2 linked regions of the Homo sapiens genome follow. The protein of the gene in region 1 interacts with the protein of each later gene in a biochemical or structural test. Each region holds a gene or a part of one and is shown in the gene's direction. Other genes may lie near its edges. The genes, in order: CD5 and CD72.

Region 1 (3,812 bases):
AGGCACGGTGGCAAGCATCATCCTGGCCCTGGTGCTCCTGGTGGTGCTGCTGGTCGTGTGCGGCCCCCTTGCCTACAAGAAGCTAGTGAAGAAATGTAGGTGTCACGGCCCTGAGTGGCTCCGTTCCCACGTGCAGAGACTGGAGGGGCTGCACTAGAGTCCTCCGGAGGAGGGGTCATGCCTCCAGAGAGCTGGGCACGCAGGACACCTCTGCTTCACCACCCAGCCTTCCCCTCTCCTGCCCATTAGCCATTTTCTGCCCCAAGTAACAGAAACACAAAGTAAACAAAATTGCAATTGCTGATTTGTCCATCTCTGGAGCCCAGCTGAGACCCACTCCAGGTCAGAGAGAAGGTGTGGCCATTCCCAAGGCTGTGGCAGGCCCAGAGGGTGTTCAGTACAGCCTCTGATGGTAGGAGACACACATCCCAGGCCTAGCCCCACCACTTACCACTGCCCAAGATGCTGATTGGGACACTTCCTCTCTCTGACCCTCAGTTTCTTCATCTACCAAATGGGCAATCGCACACCTTGTGAACGCGGGGGGTTGTTCTCCTTGCCTTGCAGAACTTAAGAGGAAATTATTCAGACAAAGAAGTGAGAGGGGAGAGATTGGGAACAGAGGGCCCAGCAGGACAGTGTTAGGTCCTAGTGCCTGCCCAGGTCTAGTTCTAAACGCCTGTGGTCTTTTCTCCTGGGGAGCCGGGCACCTCTACACCATCCTCGGCCTGCTCCTTCGGCACAGGATGGCTGCAATTCCCTTCCCGAGCAAGTTAGGAAACTGAGGCCTACGAGAGACTCCAGGGGGCAGAGCCCAGCAGCCCTGCCCTCAGCTGCACCTGCCGCCACCATCTCCCTCCCAGGCCCAGCCCCATCCCCACCCCTGCCTGCCCCCACCCATACCTGCCCCCACCACTCTGATGTGCCTTTCTTGTCTCTTGCCCAGTCCGCCAGAAGAAGCAGCGCCAGTGGATTGGCCCAACGGGAATGAACCAAAACAGTAAGTGTCCCCGGAGGCAGGAGCCTCCCTCAGGCCCTGGACAGAGGCCATGGAGGCAGAGTCGAGGCTCTCTGCTGACCACAGACGGAGCCTGTGGCTGCTTGAAGCCTCTGATCTCCACGGTGCTTGTCTGACATGTGACTGTGGCCAACAGACGTCCCCACACCAGGGAGGGCGGAGGCTTCTTGATGGGCTGATGGCTGAGCGGTTTCTACCGCTGAAGCCTCAGAGTGTAGAAACATCTCATGGTATCCTTTCTGTCCCTCGCCCCATCTCTAGGGTCCCCAGCAGCCCTCACCTCCTCCAGCAGTATTCCCCAACACAGTAGCCAGTGGATGTTAACAGGCAGCACTCACAAGAGGCCTCCCTGATCAACAGATCTGGAAAACCATGAGTTAGGCACAGCTAAGCATAGCTATTTCAGGACTTATCAGAACCTTAATGGGCATTTTTGTATTGCCCATCTCCAAAGCAAGGATCCATTAAGAAGGGCTGTCCAAGTTATTTTCATCATGGAACAACTTACAGGGCCAGTATTAGGACATTTTGGTGCAGCCAGCCCAACACCATCCCTGGTCTTCATCCTCCCTCCTTCCAGCCACAGTCAGAGACACCCTAATGGATGGAGACATGGCGCTCTTCCTGCCTCCCATTCTGCCTTCTTCCCCCTTCCCAAGTCCACAGCCAAATCCTTCAAGAGGGCTCTGTTGAATTTGTTATTAAGAAAGGCTCTGGAAACTTTCTTAATAACATACAGGCCCTCAGCTCCTGGAGGGCAGGGAGCAGATCTGTCCCGTCACCTGTGCTCCAGTCTCCTGCTTGGTAAATGCTTGATGACCGACTCACGGAAGGCCCCACCCTGCCAGTCAGATTGCTGGGTTACCCAAACCTGCTCTAAAAGTCTGCTGCTGATCCTGCTAGCATGAACCTCCCAGGAAGAAAGGAGAGGGGGATGCATTGAAGGGGCTGTGGGTGCCTTTGTCCTCTCCCCGCTAACATCATGGGAATAGGAGATTAAAGTTCTGGGCACCTGCTGGGGAAGGAGACGGAGGACACAGCCACAAGTCTGACACTGTCTCCTACCATCTGCCCAGTGTCTTTCCATCGCAACCACACGGCAACCGTCCGATCCCATGCTGAGAACCCCACAGCCTCCCACGTGGATAACGAATACAGCCAACCTCCCAGGAACTCCCACCTGTCAGCTTATCCAGGTAAGCACCAGCGGGTGCTCCCAGGCACGCAGGCAGGGCTGCAGCAGGCCGCCAAGGCAGGTCACGTGATGCCCTTGAAGGTCGGGTGATGGCCCAAAGACAGAATGGAGACCCCAGGGTGCAAGGGGATCAAACATCGCAGGATGCAGCAGGGGTACGGAAGGGATATAGCCTTTGCAGGCCCCAGCTGTCCCGTTTGAGACCACAAACTACTCATCTGGAGAGAAGAATGCACTCAGAAAGCCATCAACCCCAGCCTTGCTGTGACCTAATGGGCCTGTTTCCCTTCAGGGCCTTGAGGGGCCTGGATGGTAAATGAGGCCCCTTGGATTCCTCCGGGCTAGAAGAGAGCCATTAAGTGGGCTGCAGGAGCGCTGTACTAAAGGCTCCCAGACTGGCACTACCAATTAAGCCCCAGGGAGCCTGGAGTTCAGCATCATTAGTGAACGTTTGGCTGATTTGATCAAAACAGATAAGGGGTTGTCACCGGCTCATAAAGCCCCTGTGATCTTCCAACCCACTGTGGGCAGCGGCTCTAGGATCCAAGGGGCTCTGTGGAGTCAAAAACCCTCTGCAAACAGCGTCCTTTCTTTCCCCAGCTCTGGAAGGGGCTCTGCATCGCTCCTCCATGCAGCCTGACAACTCCTCCGACAGTGACTATGATCTGCATGGGGCTCAGAGGCTGTAAAGGTGAGCCCGTCTCCAGCCTGACCCCAGCACCCCAGGGTCCCCCACAGTCCTGGGGGTGAGCAGCAGCCACTCAATGCCTCCCCTCAGTCCCACCCTGCCCATACATGAATAGGGGACCCCCAGCATCTTGATTCTTGTAAAGGGAAAGACAAACGTCAGCTGTTTAGGTTATACGAGCTGATTTGACAATTAGAGCAGAGCAATCATGAACTTTAACAATCAACTCTTAAACTCCATTCGGAAGGCCACACAGGCAGAGTCCCTAAGAGCTCCGTGATGGAGTCACACCCCTCTAGAGCTGCCAACCTGCCAGCGGGCAGAAGGAGCCCCTGGCTCAGGACAGCAGCCGTCCCCAAGATGGAGCCCAGAGCATGGGTCCTGTCCCCGACCTCCCTGCATCACCTCTGCGGTGTCTTCCTCTAACACGTTTCCTTCTCACCCCACAGAACTGGGATCCATGAGCAAAAAGCCGAGAGCCAGACCTGTTTGTCCTGAGAAAACTGTCCGCTCTTCACTTGAAATCATGTCCCTATTTCTACCCCGGCCAGAACATGGACAGAGGCCAGAAGCCTTCCGGACAGGCGCTGCTGCCCCGAGTGGCAGGCCAGCTCACACTCTGCTGCACAACAGCTCGGCCGCCCCTCCACTTGTGGAAGCTGTGGTGGGCAGAGCCCCAAAACAAGCAGCCTTCCAACTAGAGACTCGGGGGTGTCTGAAGGGGGCCCCCTTTCCCTGCCCGCTGGGGAGCGGCGTCTCAGTGAAATCGGCTTTCTCCTCAGACTCTGTCCCTGGTAAGGAGTGACAAGGAAGCTCACAGCTGGGCGAGTGCATTTTGAATAGTTTTTTGTAAGTAGTGCTTTTCCTCCTTCCTGACAAATCGAGCGCTTTGGCCTCTTCTGTGCAGCATC
Region 2 (3,278 bases), on another chromosome or scaffold:
CAGCCCCTAGTAACTGATTAGAGTTGGCATGAGAATGGAAACTTAACCATATCTACATTTTTTTTTTTTTGAGACAGAGTCTCACTCTGTCACCCAGGCTGGAGTGCACTTGCATAATCTCAGCTCACTGCAACCTCCGCCTCCTGGGTTCATGCAATTCTCCCGTCTCAGCCTCCTGAGTAGCTGGGACTACAGTCACATGCCACCACGCCCAGCTAATTTTTGTATTTTTAATAGAGTCGGGGTTTCACCATATTGGTCAGGCTGGTCTCTAACTCCTGGCCTCAGGTGATCCACCTGCTTCAGTCTCCCAAAGTGCTGGGATTATAGGTGTGAACCACTGCGCCCGGCCTCTACTTTAATGTGTATCTCATCTCAGCTTGCTGGTCAGCTCCCTGGGCTGCTTGACAGGTTCCTGGACTCTTGTGGCCTCTCAGGCAGAGAGGTCCCACACCTGGTGGGCTGGATTGTAGGGATTAGTTCCTTGGGGCCAGAACAGCACACAGAATGACTCCCCTCCAAAGGCTGGCAGAGATTCTTACTCAGCTGGAAGGCAAATTTAGCAGTGAGCCTGCATCTGCAGGGTGGCACTTGATGGATTCAGGGACAAGTTACCAAAGAGCTGTCATATATACAGCCCCCTTGCCAAAGCTGAGGCCTCCCTAGGGTGTGCATTTTCTTCCATATTTCTCATCACTCTCCATGTATCTCTGGTCTCTCTGAATCTCCCCTCAGCACTCTTACTACTTCTTAAATTCACTGTTGCCAAATGGTGGTTCAGGGAATTCATATTGGACTGGCCTCAGCTCTAACAAGGATTGGAAGTTGACTGATGATACACAACGCACTAGGTAAGTTTGTTAGGACTTCTGGGTATTTTCAACTCCATAATCCCCTCCATAAAGACATGGTAATCAGATTTCCTTCCCACCTGGTCCCCTCAGGACTCTCCCATAAATCAACACTGTAATTGCCTATTTGTCTGTTTCCTCTATTTGATTAATAACTTCTTAGGGCAATCTTATTCTCCATTCTATTTCCACCTAGAAGTCCCTGGCACATACTTTTTTGTTTCAGTAACTACTAGGTTGGGACCTACGCTATCTTTTAGGGGGAGACATTAAGGATTTAGTTAAGGCTCCACAGCTGATGACAGCAGCGTTTCTCCATCCTTCGAGAAGGCCACCCAAACTGAGGTTGTACTTTCTCAGTAGCGGCCACTTGGGGCACTAGAGCTGCCTCAGTGAAGTACGCAAGGGAGCAGCGGGGGTACCATCGAAGCTCCACTTCACTGTGATCAAGACAGCAGTGGGGTACCATTGAGGATCAACCCTAGGGACCCTGAAACAGGGTGGCAACCTCCTTATGTTCCTCAATTGGCCTTCCCATCTTTTTTTTTTTTTTGAGATGGAGTCTCGCTCTGTCGCCCAGACTGGAGTGCAGTGGTGCAATCTCAGCTCACTGCAAGCTCCGCCTCAGGGGTTCACACCATTCTCCTGCCTCAGCCTCCCCAGCAGCTGGGACTACAGGCGCACACCGCCATGCCCGGCTAATTTTTTGTATTTTTAGTAGAGACGGGGTTTCACCGTGTTAGTCAGGATGGTCTCGATGTCCTGACCTTGTGATCCACCCGCCTTGGCCTCCCAAAGTGCTGGGATTGCAGGCATGAGCCACCGTGCCCAGCCTGGCCTTCCCATCTTTAAGATCTCGAGTTATTTTTCCCTCTGCTGGTTCTAAAGTCTGTTTTAGTTGAACTCCAGACATCTGTCCTGAACCATGCCCAGATGTGGCCTTAGGCAGGCAGGGTGAGTTAGGATTTAGGTTTTATACAGGGGAAGGGGAGAGAAGGGAGGGTGGGATATGTCCAGAGCATATCCCAGCTCTACCTTACTACTTTTTAGGACTTATGCTCAAAGCTCAAAATGTAACAAGGTACATAAAACTTGGTCATGGTGGACACTGGAGTCAGAGTCATGTAGAAGTTCTCTTCCCTACATCTGTGAGATGACAGCTTTCAGGTTTCCAGATTAGGACAGTCCTTTGCACTGAGTTGGTAAGAGTGAGGGATGGGGCTGAGGCATGGGGAGTCCAGGGGCAGAGGGACTCAGAGCAGGGACTCAGAGCAGGGGCCCAGGGGCCCGAGAGAAAACTTGTACCTGGGATGAAAGTTCCTCCACAGCCTCCAGTTGCTTGGTCTGCTTGTTAGGGTGGGGTGGGCAGGGAGGGACAGGTAAGGCCTACAACTTATGGGAGGCTGGTGGTGTGGCTGTCGAGAGCTGAGGAGGAGATGGGGTGAGTGGGATGAGGGTTCAGTTAAGTCAACCATGGAGCTCACTGATACTTTACTTTTCCAGACACTCATGCCAACAAGAACCTGTGCCCCTCCTTCCTAACCTGAGGCCTGGGGTTCCTCAGACCATCTCCTTCATTCTGGGCAGTGCCCAGCCACCGGCTGACCCACACCTGACACTTCCAGCCAGTCTGCTGCCTGCTCCCTCTTCCTGAAACTGGACTGTTCCTGGGAAAAGGGTGAAGCCACCTCTAGAAGGGACTTTGGCCTCCCCCCAAGAACTTCCCATGGTAGAATGGGGTGGGGGAGGAGGGCGCACGGGCTGAGCGGATAGGGGCGGCCCGGAGCCAGCCAGGCAGTTTTATTGAAATCTTTTTAAATAATTGCACGTGTTAGTCTCATGTGTCAGCAATGCTGTGTCTGGTTCAGTGATCCCCACGGGAACGCGAGCCGGGGGGTCGACTGGAAGTGCTCTGTCCCTTGAGTCCATGCTGGGGCTCCCCTACACGGGGAGAAGAGCCGGTCAGCCCATCTGGAACTGGCACTGTCCAGCAAGTGTGCTCTGTTCTTACAGGGTGTCCTGAAGGCCAAAGTTGGAGGCCTGAGACCACGGGCTCCACTGCTAAGAGCGTGCCCCAGGCAGCTGCAGGCTGGGTGTGGGTGGCTTGGCGTGGTGCCCTCGGTGGCAGAGGAGACTGCCCGCCTCACAGTTCAGGTTGCGGTAGCGGGCAACAGCTGGTGTGGGGCGGGGGCACATGGACAGGAAGCCAAAGCTGAAGGGGCCGAGGCAGCAGCCAGGACAGGGCAGCCCCTCATCGGGCTCCCGGGGAGCTGAAGGGGGTGGCGAGGGTTCTGTCCGCTCCAGGGCTGCCGCCCGGGGCAGGCTATGCTGGGCCCGGTTCCAGGGCTCCCCAGCCCAGCCTTGTGGGGAGTTCACCACCACAGCTGGGGGATTGTTATTGAGGACGGGTCCTGATCTAGGGGACCA

What was found.
Region 2: the proteins of CD5 (region 1) and CD72 form a complex in vitro, tested with the Homo sapiens proteins (one study listed by BioGRID).

Annotation. Positions count from the first base shown.
Region 1 is NC_000011.10:61,122,938-61,126,749, forward strand, and holds part of CD5 (T-cell surface glycoprotein CD5 isoform 1 precursor), read left to right. Parts: coding exon 1-95; intron 96-946; coding exon 947-1,000; intron 1,001-2,094; coding exon 2,095-2,214; intron 2,215-2,813; coding exon 2,814-2,902; 3' UTR 2,903-2,904; intron 2,905-3,350; 3' UTR 3,351-3,812. UniProt on the Homo sapiens protein: Lymphoid-specific receptor expressed by all T-cells and in a subset of B-cells known as B1a cells. Plays a role in the regulation of TCR and BCR signaling, thymocyte selection, T-cell effector differentiation and immune tolerance.
Region 2 is NC_000009.12:35,609,377-35,612,654, reverse strand, and holds the end of CD72 (B-cell differentiation antigen CD72), read left to right. Parts: intron 1-735; coding exon 736-851; intron 852-1,901; coding exon 1,902-2,031; 3' UTR 2,032-2,053; intron 2,054-2,354; coding exon of another isoform or gene 2,355-2,505; 3' UTR 2,506-2,673; downstream 2,674-3,278. Other genes in the region: TESK1 (dual specificity testis-specific protein kinase 1), read right to left, coding at 2,913-3,278. UniProt on the Homo sapiens protein: Co-receptor of B cell receptor (BCR) that plays both positive and negative roles on B-cell functions. Recognizes the Sm/ribonucleoprotein (RNP) self-antigen ligand, and coligation of CD72 and BCR inhibits BCR signaling.